2 linked regions of the Homo sapiens genome follow. The protein of the gene in region 2 interacts with the protein of the main gene of each other region in a pairwise test. Each region holds a gene or a part of one and is shown on either strand. Other genes may lie near its edges.

Evidence for each region. The genes of interacting proteins can lie anywhere in the genome.
Region 1: the proteins of MCM10 (region 2) and KLHL40 interact in binary tests that used the Homo sapiens proteins (3 or more experiments, as listed by UniProt).

What each region holds. Positions count from the first base shown.
Region 1 is NC_000003.12:42,688,537-42,694,607, reverse strand, and holds the end of KLHL40 (kelch-like protein 40), read right to left. Parts: intron 5,999-6,071; coding exon 5,891-5,998; intron 5,740-5,890; coding exon 5,554-5,739; intron 3,750-5,553; coding exon 3,603-3,749; intron 2,727-3,602; coding exon 2,615-2,726; 3' UTR 2,064-2,614; downstream 1-2,063. Other genes in the region: HHATL (protein-cysteine N-palmitoyltransferase HHAT-like protein), read left to right, coding at 790-991, 1,390-1,531, 1,733-1,857. UniProt on the Homo sapiens protein: Substrate-specific adapter of a BCR (BTB-CUL3-RBX1) E3 ubiquitin ligase complex that acts as a key regulator of skeletal muscle development.
Region 2 is NC_000010.11:13,204,704-13,212,882, forward strand, and holds the end of MCM10 (protein MCM10 homolog), read left to right. Parts: intron 1-4,387; coding exon 4,388-4,430; intron 4,431-4,523; coding exon 4,524-4,607; 3' UTR 4,608-6,407; downstream 6,408-8,179. UniProt on the Homo sapiens protein: Acts as a replication initiation factor that brings together the MCM2-7 helicase and the DNA polymerase alpha/primase complex in order to initiate DNA replication. Additionally, plays a role in preventing DNA damage during replication.

The sequences.
Region 1 (6,071 bases), on a different chromosome or scaffold from region 2:
GGAACAGAAACCAGACCACTTGGGATCTTCTAGCCAGAGTAAAGAGACTGAGTTTATTCCTATTGTAATGGGGAGCTATTCAGAGAGGTTAATCATGGAAGTGATGTGACCTGAGCTACACTCTTAAAAGATGCCTCTGGCTGCTGTGTGGAGAATGAACCATGGGGGCAAAAGCAGAAACAAGAAGACCACTTAAGAGGCTCTTGCAATAATTTATGTGAGAAGAGTGATCATCTTGACTAGGGTGGTGGTGGTAGAGGAGGTGAGTGGTGGTCAGGACTGAGAGGAGCCAACAGAATTTGCTGGCTTGCTTGGATGTGGGTGATGAGGCAAACTGAGAATCCAAGATGGCACCAAGGCTTATACCCTGAGCAACTGAATGGATGGTGGTGCCATTCACTGAGATGAGGACGGAGCTGGGTTTGAGCAGGGATAGGGGAATCTGTCAATCAAGTGACATGGCTAGTAGCAATTGCATATACAAATCAGGAGAGACTGGGCTAAAGACACAGATTTAGGGGTCATCGTCATAGAGCTAGTACTTGAAATCTTGGGTCTGGATGAGATCATTTGGGAAGTAAACGAACAGAGATAGAGAAGCTATAATGTCCCAGGCTGAGCCTGCCACAATTTGAAGTTGGTTGGAGGAGGAGCTGCTACGTGAGGTCAGGAATGTTGAATGCACCCAGGGTGACAGTGTTGAGGAGGACGCCCTGTTGTGTGTCCTCTCCCATCTCATCCCTGCCCTTTCCCACACTCCCAGTGGCCCTTCTCCCATCTTTCCTGCAGATATGTGTATAACCACATTGGTGGGGAGCATTCCGCTGTGATCCCAGAGCTGGCAGCCACAGTGGCCACATTTGCCATCACCACACTGTGGCTTGGGCCTTGTGACATTGTCTACCTGTGGTCATTCCTTAACTGCTTTGGCCTCAACTTTGAGCTCTGGATGCAAAAACTGGCAGAGTGGGGGCCCCTAGCACGAATTGAGGTGAGCAGGGAAGACCTGGGGCTGGGACTGGCTGGGTCATAGAGGGCGGGGGGGCACTGCTGCTTTCTGGAGTTGTCCAAACACCTGGCCCCTAATCCAGAACTTTCTCACCACCACCCTCTTAGTTGTCAGAGCAATGGCTCACTCTGTAGGAATCTGCCCCTCCCTCCCTTCTATGAGGAATGGAGCACCTGGGCCTTGCCATGTTGGTCAGGCCTTGTCCTCTCTCTGGACCTGTTTCCCCATGTTTAACAAGGAGGGAGAGCTGACCTGGGGCTCTCCGAGACCCAGACATAGCCCCAAGACCTGACTGGCCAGGTGGGTAAGGCTGCTGACCCACCATGTCCTCTTTCCTTTGGCCTCTTGTCCCGCTGCCCATGCTTTCCTGGACCGGATAGGCCTCTCTGTCAGTGCAGATGTCCCGTAGGGTCCGGGCCCTGTTTGGAGCCATGAACTTCTGGGCCATCATCATGTACAACCTTGTGAGCCTGAACAGCCTCAAATTCACAGAGCTGGTTGCCCGGCGCCTGCTACTCACAGGTGAGGGACAGGGGTGTGGGGATACAGAAGGTGCCAGGCATCAGCCTCAAGGACCGTGACCTTCCAAAATGCCTCCTATCTCCCTCATCACCCCTGGGACTCAGAAGGGAGGGCCCATCAAGCGGGGAGAGGGGTGGGAAGACAAAAGTCGCTGAGGATGCAGTGCTGCTCCTGAGCATCTATGACTCCCTCCCCACACAGGGTTCCCCCAGACCACGCTGTCCATCCTGTTTGTCACCTACTGTGGCGTCCAGCTGGTAAAGGAGCGTGAGCGAACCTTGGCACTGGAGGAGGAGCAGAAGCAGGACAAAGAGAAGCCGGAGTAGGAGGGAGCGGGTAGAGGGATGGGCTCTGCTCAGCTATTCTTGGGCCAGATGGGGCCTGACCGATAGAATAAAAGACTTTTCTACAACAGCTTGGCTGTTCCCTGACCCTTCTTCCCACAGTCCCCTGGCTCCACGTCCATAGTGGCTGAGGAGCTGGAGGCTCTAGGCCTCAGGCAGGGGAGGGTTCCCACCCATAGGGTGGAGGGGACACCAGATGGAGAGCAGAGACCATCGACCTTGGCAGCCCAACAGCAGAACACTGAAGCCCCAAGTCTTCAACACACCTGCTCACTGACTCTTGGAGCACTGATGCAGACCCTGAGCTGCTTGCTCAGAAGGCACTTTATTCTTCCTAAAGAAGGAGACATATCTGCACTGTACACTGCACTTGATGGGGATGCTCCCATCGGACAGACGAGAAGGCTGAGTCCTGTGGGGAACTTTGCCAGCACACTCAGCTAGGCTGGGGCAGGGCCAGCACACGGCCTGGGATACCGCCCTGTGGTTCTGGTTCATGGATCAAGACAACCTAGGGGGATATGGCAACACTGGAGAAGCCTCTAGTTTCTCACCCTTGCCCAAAAGTCCAGGACTAAGCAGCACTTCCCTTTCCTTGGCTGACGCAGCCCCTGAGGCACCATAACTGGATCCAGGTAGACTCTGGCCTCTCCTAGCCTCTTTTCTGGAGCCCCCACAAGGCCAGGCCAGTGAGGGTCGCAGGATGGGAGGGGTGCTTAGTTCAGTCTGCCTGAGCTGGTCACATCTTAGTCAGGCACAGCACATTGAGCCGCACTGGTAGGAAGGTGGCACCTGCTGCATAGGCGATCTCCCGCAGGACACCCTCCCATTTCTTCTCCTCCTCGTTATACCTGGGGATGAGAGAGAGTGGGGACAAGGATGGAGAGCTTGGTCAGCTGAGTCCAGAGTGGAACGCAGCAGAGAGGGGTGGCTGAGGGCACTTGGCCCATCTCTAGGGAGATCTGCTCCTGAAAATCCCCAGGCTCTGGGAAAGGAGACCCCCCACAAGACCCACCCCAAGGAACACCCACCCCACACTCCAGGAAGGGTCTTTCTCCCCAGGAAAGATCACCTCTCAAGGGGTGTTCCCATATTCCTCAAAGTTCCCCTCCAGGAAGGTCTACACTGCCCACACCACCCCATCAATGTCCTCTCCTTGAGAATTTCCATGCTCCATTTCTACTAAGTCTCACGTCTCAGCCTCCGGCAGCACTGCTCCCCAGGGGCTGCCTGCAGCAGTGCAGATGGCTGCAGGTTCAGGAAGGAGATGCCCCAGAGGCTAAAGTTTCCTTCTCCCACCCCCACAAAGGACCAGCCATAGAGAGCAATGGTTCTGAAAGGCCAGGGCTCCAACTGTTTCCCAGCCCTAGTGGCAGCCCTCCCTCCAGACCAAGCACCCGGAAGGCAGGAGAGAAGAAAATCCGGCTGCTATTTGGGCCCTGTTTCTGTGAGTCTATGACCTAAGCTTGGGTCTGCTCCCATCTGCAACACTGTTGCTGCTCCACAGTGGGGCATGGTGTCATCTGTGCAAGCCCAGACTTTCCCAACAAACTGGTGAGAAACGGCCAAGCAGGGTATGTTGGCTATTCCTCCCTACAGGACTCCCTAGAAGAGGGATCCGCTTTGCCCCCAGAGGAGCTTGCCCAGTGCCTTGGTACCCCACCATGGTGCTATGGGGTGTCAGCCTTGCTCATGATGCCCCCTTGCCTCCCCAGGGTGGGACTCACCTCCAGATGTCATTGAGCTCTGTGGGAACCAGCTCTCCAGACTCCGTCTCCAGTGTGGCAAAGCCACCAATGGCATAGAGGGTACCCACCAGGCTGACCAGGCTGAGTGAGCTACGCTCCTGTGGGAAGGCCTCGAAGGGTGCCCACCTGGGGGTGTGTGAGAAGGTGCATCATTGGGATGCCTCGGCAAGCCCAGTGACTGTCCCTGCCACCCAGCACCCACAGCTCCAACTGCAACCCTTTGCAATCCAAGTCCCAGGCACCCATGCCCCCAACCCCATTCCCCTTCCCTGTCCCTCTGGTCTTCCCTTCCTTCCCCATTCTCTTGCTCCTCCACTTTCCTTTCCTTGTCCTCTTGCCATTCTATCCAACCTGTCCAGCAAAGTCCACCATGGATCTCCCCACTGCCCCTACTCCTCTCCTGAACTAACTCCACCCTCCAACTCACAACCCCAGCCCCTAGCAGGCCCCCAGCCTTGCCCTGGACGCAGTCCTTTTGCCCCTCAGCGGCCCCTGCAGCCCCACCCACCTTGCACACCTGCTCTATCCTTCTTCTCCCTTCACAGCCCAGTTGTTCTCAATGTATCTTCGCTACCCTGGCTCCTGCCTTGGGCCTTAGTCCCATCCTCCAAAACTGACCTTCCTGAGGTCCACAGTCACTGCACACGCACTGAGGTCCTACAGCACACAGCCCTGCTGACGTGACTTTCCTCACCCATCTCTTCGGCCTCACCTTCGTGGCCTCCTTCCTGGATAATGCAGCTGCCTCCACCATCAGGGCTTGGACCTCAGCTCCTCCCATTTACACTCTCTCTCCTGAGGGAGCTTGGCCCCTCCGTGTGCTACTGACCCCCAGATCTCTCCCTCCAGCTCAGCCCTCTCTCTCCCGGGTGGGGTCCTTTTGGACACCCCCAGGTACTTCAAGTCCACATGTCCTAACTGGACCCTCACTTTCCCTACCCAATCCCAATGATTATCCAGTAAATGGCCTCCCACCCTCACTCAGAAGCATGTACTTCTCCCCCTCTCACCCCCACATCCAATCAATAGCTAAGCCCTGTTTCTCCCACCTCCTAGACTCTTGCTACTCAAAGTGTGGTTCATGGCCCAGCAGCGTCAGCATCTCCTGGGGGTGCGTTAGAAATGCAGACTTACAGGCTTTCAGCCCTCCGCATACCGAGAATCAGAATCTGCACTTTAAGGCGATCCCCAGGAGATTTGCATGCCCATCACAGTGTAAGAAGCCCTGGCCTGTCTTTGTCCGGTGCATCCCCTCAACCCCATCTCCGCTGTGCCCCCAGCTCCAGGCCTTTATCACCCCTGACCTTCCTGACCCCTGGGAAATCCCTAATCTGCTCTCTATATCAGTTGCCATGAAGTACTTTAGTAGAACACAGATGAGATACAGTCCCTCTCCTGCTGGCCCCCGCTCCAGCCCCAGCACCGCCATCCCAACTCCATCACCCACCCACCTCCACCCAGCTGGAGCAACACCTTCCCTCCTATAGGCCTTGAGTTTTTTCTCCAAACTGCCTCAGCACCACCTTTCCTTAGTCTGGGGCAACCTCCTCCCACCACCCTCACCCCTTTTGCGAGCTGAGTCCAACTGTCTCTCAGTTCAGTTTTCTCTTTTCTGATGTCCCAGGCAGGGCAGCTTCTGTCTTGTTCACTGCTATATCCCTTGCACCAGGCCATTGCCTGGTATGAGTCCCTGAATGAGGAACCTGGCATCCCCTCCCCCAGCCCTGGGAGCCCCCTCCTGCAGACCAGGCTGGCCATAACCCTTGCCCCGCCTCCCCACCTCACTGCTGATCAGGAGAGAAAGCCTATTTCTATACTGATGTCCAAAGTCAACACTGGAGACCCAAGACAGGGACTGCAGCTCCTGCTGGGGCTGACAGAAGCCCAAAGCCATGCAGTTGTCCTTGGCGGAAGGGACAAGCTTTCATACTTGTTGTCTGTGATGCTGTACACTTCGGCAGAACTGGTCAGCCCTGTGTCGGTGACCCCAGCTGCCACGATAATGCGGCCATCATGGACAGTGGCCCCAAAGAGTGAGCGGGCGGTCTGCATGGGTGCCAGCTCCTTCCACTCAAACTTCTTGGGGTCATAGACGCACATCTTGTTCAGGCACTTCCTGTGGGGTGGAGGGTGGGGATGGGTGGAGAGAAGCAGGAGCCCAGCCACGCCTCCCTGCAATCACCTGCCGGGGCAGCCAGGACAAACCCCTGACAGCCTCTGGGAGATTCTACCTCTGCTCCACAGACTCACTCCAGGCCCAGCCTCACCTGTCACTGCCTTTGCCGCCAATTACGTAGACAAGGTCCATGTGGGAGAGCACTGTGTGGCCATACACCACGTAAGGCAGCGGGTCCGATTCACCCCATTTGAATGACCTGGAGGAGACGGGAGTGGGGGTGGGGGAGGGCACCCATCCAGGCTCGGCTCAGTCCCTGTCTCTGCACCCAT
Region 2 (8,179 bases):
AGTTATTTGATCATTTTAAATGTCTTTAGCTTGTGAGGACTCTGCTGTTCTTCAGTATCCAAGGGGCATTGGTCCCAGGACAGCACTCTTCCCCACAGGATACCAAAATCTGTGGATGCTCAAGTCTCTGATATAAAATAGTGTCATATTTGCATATAACATGCACACATCCTTCCATATACTTTAAATCATCTCTAGATTACTTATAATACCTAATACAATGTAAGTGCTGCAAATAGTTGTTATATTGTTTTTTATTGTATTTTTTATTGTGCTTCTCATGTATGTATGTATGTATGTATATATATATATATATATATATATATATATATATATATATATATATATATTAATTTGTATAAATTTAAGGGGCACAAGTGCAATTTTGTTACCTGGATAGTTTGTGTAATAGTAAAGTCGGGGCTTTTAGTGTAGCCATCACCTGAAATAATGTACATTGTACCCATTAAGTAATTTCTCCTCCCTCGCCCCCTCCCACCCTTCGGTGTCTATTATTCCGCCTTCTGTGTCCTTGCATACACATGTTAGCTTCCATTTGTAAGTGGGTACATGCAGTATTTGGCTTTCTGTTTCTGAGTTTTTTCACTTAGGATAATGGCCTCCAGTTCCATCCATGTTGCTGTAAAAGACATGACTTCATTCTTTGATATGGCTGAGCAGTATTCCATTGTGTTTATGTACCACATTTTCTTTATCCAGTCATCTCTTGATGGGCATTTAGGTTGATTCCACGTCTTTGCTATTTTGACTATTACTGTGATAAACATACATGTGCAGAAATCAGTGTACTGATTTCTTGTTCTTTGGGTAGATACCCAGTAGTGGGATTGCTGGATTGAATGGTAGTTTTATTTTTAGTTCTTTGAGAAATCTTCATATGTTTTCTATATGAGGTTGTGCTAATTTGCATTCCCACCAGTGTGAGCATTCCCTTTTCACCACATCCACGCCAGCATCTGGTTATTTTTTGCCTTTTTAATAATAGCCATTCTTACTGGTATAAGATGATAACTCTGATGATGAGTGTTTTTCCGAATACTTTGGACCCACGGATGGGATGCTTGAACCCACAGGTGTGGTAGGCTGACTGTGTGTGTTGTAAGTGTCTTTTGTTTCTCTTTTTACTTTTGGGGGCAACATCAGATACGGAGGCAGAGCTGCCGTGTTTGACAGTCAAGGAACATCCTTCACATAGAATACGACGATGGCACCTCTGGAGCTGGGTTAAGGAACCCTCCCTGGTGCAGCATGTTGCCGTCGCAGGTCCATCCAGTGCCCTCCCTGTTTCATTCACGTGCTCTTCTTACCCATTCTCCCTCCATCCTATCCCTTCGCACCATCCTCTGCCATTCTCCAATGGTTGCTGTGATCCTCTTGTTAATTTTCTTGTGAACGTGTACTGCTTGCTCTGCAGCCGTTTTTATTTCACATAGGTGGTACAGAATTCTGTCTCATTTGATTTTGTTTCTCACTCGGCTCTGTGTTTGTAGGATGCGTCTGTGCTCGCTATGTTCCTCGGCTTCCTAACTGATGACAGTGCCCAAGGCAGCACCCATCACATTTCGCCCACGGGCACCCTATACCCTCCCCACACAGGTCCCCTGGCCTCAGCCCCTCAGTGCTTTCACCACAATGAGTTCTTATTCTTGTCAAGAGCTCTCACTGGGATAGTATCACTGCCTTTTGGTGTGCTTGCTTATTTTCATTTGTTGTTCACTTCCTGGAGTTCATACTTCACTCTCACTTCAGATTCTCCAGGGTCGATCCAGAGATCTGAGGGAGGGAGCCAGGAAGCCGGGCTAGTTCATCACTTTACCAGGAGCTGGCTTGCCAATTTTTCACAATCTAGATTATAATTTTTAAGTAGTTATTTATATATTGATACTTGACTTTTTTCCAAACTAGATGACTAAAAATGTCATTATAGCAAGAGCTTATGGAAAACGTTAGAAAAATTAAAAAAAATTCTGTTTATTAAGTACAGGGCACAAATGGAAGGGCATGATGCCTTTCAGCCTCCAGATGGCACTGTGATTGTAAGAACCATGTTTTTTCTGGACTTTTTGTCAGTTGCTTTTTTTTTTTTCCTTCTTTTTTTGAGACAGGGTCTCACTCTGTCATCCAGGCAGGAGTGCAGTGCCATGATCATAGCCCATTGCAGCCTTGAACTCATGGGCTCAAGCGATCCTTCTGCTTCTGCCTCCTGAGTAGCTGGGACTACAGGTGTGCACCACTACACCCAGCTAATTTTTTTAATTTACTTTTTTTTATAGAGACAAGGTCTCACTATGTTGTCCAGGCTGGTTTCAAACTCCTGGGCTCAAGTGGGCTCAGCTGCCCAAAGTGCTGGGATTGCAGGCCTGAGCCACCATGCTTGGCTAGTTCTTGATCTAGAACAGAAGGCAGCACACATTGCCTGTAAAATGTCAGTGGTGAATATATTAGGCTTTGTGGGCCAGATGATCTGTCACAACCACACGGCTCTGCTGGTGCAGCCTGAAAGCAACCATAGATAATACACAGGCAACTGGGCACGGCTGTGTTCAAATAAAACTTTATTTATAAAAACTGGTGATGTGCTGGATTGGGGTTGTAGTTTGCTGACTCCTAACTAGAATAGTGATTTTTTTTTTCTCACAATTTTATCATTGATCGACATATAGGCTACCAGAGTTCTCTTCATTGATACTGAACCAGTCTCTAGAGGTGGAAGGTGATGGTTGGGAGGTTGTAAGGGCTAAGGCCACTGGCGTGCCACCTTTCAGGGCAGAAATTGTGATATGGTTTGGCTGTGTCCCCACCCAGATCTCATCTTGAATGGTAGCTCCCATAATTCCCACAAGTTGAGAGAGGGACTCAGTGGGAGGTAATTGAATCATGGGGCAGGTCTTTCCCGGGCTGTTCTCATGAAAACAAATAAGTCTCATGAGATCTGATGGTTTTATAAAGGAGAGTTCCCTGCACACACTGTCTTGCCTGCCGCCATGTAAGACATGCCTTTGCTCTTCCTTCGTCTTCCACCATGATTGTGAGGCCTCCCCAGCCATGTGGAACTGAGTCCATTAAACTTCTTTCCTTTATAAATTACCCAGTCTTGGGTATGTCTTTACTAGCAGCATGAGAACAGACTAATGAGAACGAGTAGACTCTAAGCTAGGTAAGGGGAAGGGGAGACAGGCAGAGCATCCCCACCCCACCCCAACCCTCTGAAATCCAAGTAAGCAGGCAGACATACTTCCTTAGCTTTATTATATGTCTTCTCTCTTTCTCTCTCTTTTTCCCAGAGTAAACTTCATAGGAAATAAGTTTTCACCATAGTGTTCACATCCCTTCTCAGGGTGGAAGTCACCCACCATTTTAAAAACTAGAGCAAGAAGGGCTGGACTTGGTGGCTCATGCCTGTAATTCCAGCAGTTTGGGAGGCTGAGGCAGATGGAACACTTGAGCCCAGGAGTTCAAGACCAGCCTGGGCAACATAGTGAGACTCCCCATCTCTACAGAAATTTAAAAATGAGCTGGGCATGGTGGTGTACACCTTTGGTCCCAGCTACTCAAGAGGCTGAGGCAGGAGGATCACTTGATCCCTGAAGATCAAGGCTGCTGCAGTGAGCTGTGATCGCACTACTGCACTCCAGCCTGGGCCACAGAGTGAACCCTGTCTCTAAAAAAAAATAAAAACAAAACAAGAGTCCCTGGGCCCTTTGAATAAAAAGAGAGTAAAGAGGCTGGGCACAGTGGCTCACGCCCGTAATCCCAGCACTTTGGGAGGCTGAGGCAGGCAGATCACTTGTGCCCAGGAGTTTGAGGCCAGCGTGGGCAACATAGCAAAATCCCATCTCTCCAAAAAAAAAAAAAAAAGGAAAAGAAAAGAAAGTGAGTAAAGGCTTTTGGGTTATAAAGAGAAAGGGAGAAGGATGATCCAGACTAGAAAGAAGATTATTCCTTTCTTAGCTCAACCTTTTTGCTCCAAAAAAAAGAGGAGGAAGGGGCCAAACATAGATTATCCTGCACCAGAGGGCCAGCTCCTTAAATCTGAGTCTCATCCCAACCACCATCATTTGTAAAAACCAAGGGTGCATTCATTACCTGCAGTGCGTGGATCCCTGTGGTGCCATCATTATCATTTGAAGCTCCATCTCTGAAGCCTCTAGCTTTGTAAGGACCTACAGACCACTTCCCAAGTCATTGCAGGTTTATTTTTGTCGCATTTGAGCATAACCTCAGATTTGGCATACAATACGAATGTCACCTTGAACAGCTTCTCCTTGAATGGGGGCCTACTCTCCCCAGGTGCAGTGAGCACCGTCGTCTTTACATGAGTGGGCCTACACCACCCTGCTGAGTAAATCCATCTGTTCTGTTTCAGTAACTGTGGCCTCTACAAATGGGAACGGGACGGAATGCTAAAGGTATGCCATTTGCGTACTAATTTTTGACTCCTTTTAGTGACCCATGCTAATAATGTGGAACCATCTCCTATTAAAATATTTTCATTTTTCTAGGAAAAGACTGGTCCAAAGATAGGAGGAGAAACTCTGTTACCAAGAGGAGAAGAACATGCTAAATTTCTGAACAGCCTTAAATAACCCGAACTTCAGACATTTTCCCACAGACTTCCTGGCCTCCTGTGACTCTGGAAAGCAAAGGATTGGCTGTGTATTGTCCATTGATTCCTGATTGACGCCGTCAAAAACAAATGCTTGTTAAGCCCATAAGCTTTGCCTGCTTACTTTCTGCCATTGGGTTGGTTTGATACCACATTTAACATTGACATTTAAGTGGAAAACCAAGTTATCATTGTCTTTTCTAAGCTCAGTGTGGATGATTGCATTACTTCATTCACTGAAGTTTTTGCCCAAAAATTGGAAGGTAAACAGAGAGCTATGTTTCTGTATCTTTTGGTTATAGAGTGTTCACTTCTTTATCATAACAAAATTCTAGTGTTTATACGAACACCCAGAGGCAAAAGAATTTGGCTTAATTCTCACTCCAGGTAAGTAGCTTAACTTCTGGGCTTCAGTTTTCTCATCTGTAAAATCAGGAAGATTGGACTAAGTGATCCTGAAATGTATTTTTTAGCACTGGATTTCTACAAATAATAAAACTTTCCCATCTAGATAATGATGATCACATAGTCTTGATGTACGGACATTAAAAGCCAGATTTCTTCATTCAATTCTGTTATCTCTGTTTTACTCTTTGAAATTGATCAAGCCACTGAATCACTTTGCATTTCAGTTTATATATATAGAGAGAAAGAAGGTGTCTGCTCTTACATTATTGTGGAGCCCTGTGATAGAAATATGTAAAATCTCATATTATTTTTTTTTTAATTTTTTTATTTTTTATGACAGGGTCTCACTATGTCACCCTGGCTGGAGTGCAGTAGTGCGATCGCGGCACACTGCAGCCTTGGCTTCCCTGGGCTCAAGCAGTCCTCCCACCTCAGTCTCCCAAATAGCTAGGACTACAGGCGTGCGTGACCAAGCCCAGCTAATTTTTGCATTTTTTGTAGAGATGGGGTTTTGCCATGTTGCTCAGGCTGGTCTCAAACTCCTGAGCACTAGCAATCCACCCACCTCTGTTTCCAAAAAAAAAAAAAAAATGAAAGGTCAACCCCTATGCAAATTACCACAGCAAAGGTTTCATTCAGGAGATTCTTCCATCTGGGCAACCTGGTTTTCCAAATATCATTTGACCTAAGTGAATGTTGATACTAGCTAAAGATTGGGTAAATTGGTTGAATTATTGTATTGAAGCTTGAGCTGTAGCTAAAAGTAATTTAGGTTTCCCCTAAGATGTTATTATGTTAGGGACATAACACTTTTGGGAGGTTGTTGTGGGAGATGGTTGATTTAGGTTTTCAAAAGCTAGAAATAAAATTTACATGCCTTAGATTTCATAAAATTCTGCTCTAATTGGGTGGAAGGTGCTGTATCTAACTTGTGTTCCTCCTAAGGTTATGTCCTAATAACTATTCTTTTAGGAGTATACTTCTACTTTATAGAAGGTTGCTTTTCTTTTTAATTTTTTCTAACAAAGAAAAGAATAAAGTATTTATTAATAAGAACCAGAAAGCACTTGAAACTGATGTTTTTAATGGCTCATTTAGGGTAGATTTATTTATCTCATTAACTTAAAACAGCTATGTGTATGAAATAGGTCACAACAGAACTTGAACACCAGGTTGGTGTCTGAGCAATCCCTTTCTTATGGGAAAAACAATGTTCTTGTTTGAACAGAGGGTATCATTGCAGTCAGTATTCACGTGTATATTGTTATATAAGTTGTATAATATGCTTGTAAAGGCTGAGGGTGAGCTGTATCTGGATGCCTTTTTACAATTTGATTTTAACTTTTAAAATAAATTTAAAACATAATTGTCACTTCTTAGTTTTGCTCAATCTTGGGGGACTTTGCTTTGAGGTGCTCTGTGCATGTGCTTTCTTAGCATATTTGGGGATGAGACGCGGTCGGTAGGGGTGGGGTAGGGAAACTTGTTATTTTATTTTACTTATTTTTTTGAGACAGAGTCTTGCTCTGTCACCCAGGCTGGAGTGCAGTGGCGCAATCTTGGCTCACTGCAACCTCCACCTCGTGGGCTCAAGCAATCCTCCCACTTCAGCCTCCCGAGCAGCTGGGATTACAGGTGGGCGCCACCGTGCCTGGCTAATTTTTGTATTTTTAGTAGAGAAGGGGTTTCACCATGTTGCCCAGGCTGGTCTCAAACTCCTGGCCTCAAGTGATCCACCTGCCTCAGCCTCCCAAAGTGCTGGGATTACAGGCATGAGCCACTGTGCCCAGCCTAATCCTACCTTCCTTATCAACCTTTATGAAATGCTTTCATGCAAATCCAACATATGTGTTTTATTTTTCTTAACCTGTCATTGGTAGCGTAGGGATTAAATGTGTAATCACAGGCCACTGGAACAGGTAAGTACACAGTGATCTGAACTAGCAAACAAAAACAACCGTGTCCTTCAAGGAGAACCTGGTTGATCTAAAGTTAATAATCTTCACAATAGATTTTTTTTTTCTTTTTACTGTGCCTTTTTCTGTTTAGAGGAAATAAATGGCTTTCTAAAGAAAATCATCTTTGTCTCGAGTTTCGTTAAAATAAATTTTCCCTTTCCAAACATCAAAAGGAAATCTGAAGTATTTTAGATACCAACCATCCTGAATAGCAAATGAGGAACTTCTGAATAATGGGTGTGGAATTTTCCCCAAAGGGAACTTCAACATTCAAAGCTTCAGGCGGACTGATGGATAACAAACTTGACAGGAAGAGATCGCATGGATTGGGTTTCTGTGTAGAAACTGGTGATGACAGAAGTAAAGCTTGATGTTTGTAGCAGGTGAAATCATACCTAATGACATTTTAGAAAATCTGGAGCACAAATCTATGTGCGTAAGTATATCTCTAGTAGCAACCCATTAGGTGTAAAATAGACTTCTCTGATCCCATGGCTAGAGATTTGGAAATAATACAGCTTTCAAGAATGATGGGTGAAATCTGGCTGGGCGTGGTGGCTCATGCCTGTAATCCCAGCACTTTGGGAGGCTAAGGCGGGTGGATCACCTGAGGTCAGGAACTGGAGACCAGCCTGGCCAACGTGGTGAAACCCCGTCTCTACTAAACATGCAAAAATTAGCTGGGCATGGTAATGCACACCTGTAAGTTGGCTAAGTAATTTGGAAATAAGATCTGAAACAGAATTGGAACCAAATCTGTGGGAATGTTGCTTGACCAAGACTTCTATGGTAGGTTTTTGGTTTTTTCGGAGTCTCACTCTGTTGCCCAGGCTGGAGTGCAGTGGTGTGATCTCGGTTCACTGCAACCTCCGCCTCCCAGGTTCAAGCAATCCTCCTGCCTCATCCCCCCTAGTAGCTGGGATTACAGGCACGTGTATAGTGATATTTTTAAAATCAACTGTGTTAAAGTATAAATTTCTTACAGTAAAAGGCGCATATCTTAGGTGTGCAGTCAGCTGCATTTAGACAAATGTATACATCTGTGTAGCCACACCACAAGCAAGATACGAGACACTGCCATCATCCCAAAAGGCCTGTACCTCTTCCCAGCCCCAGCCCCAACCCATCAGGCATCTATTTTCTGTCACTATTGTGTAGATTTGTCTTTCCTAGAATTTCATATACA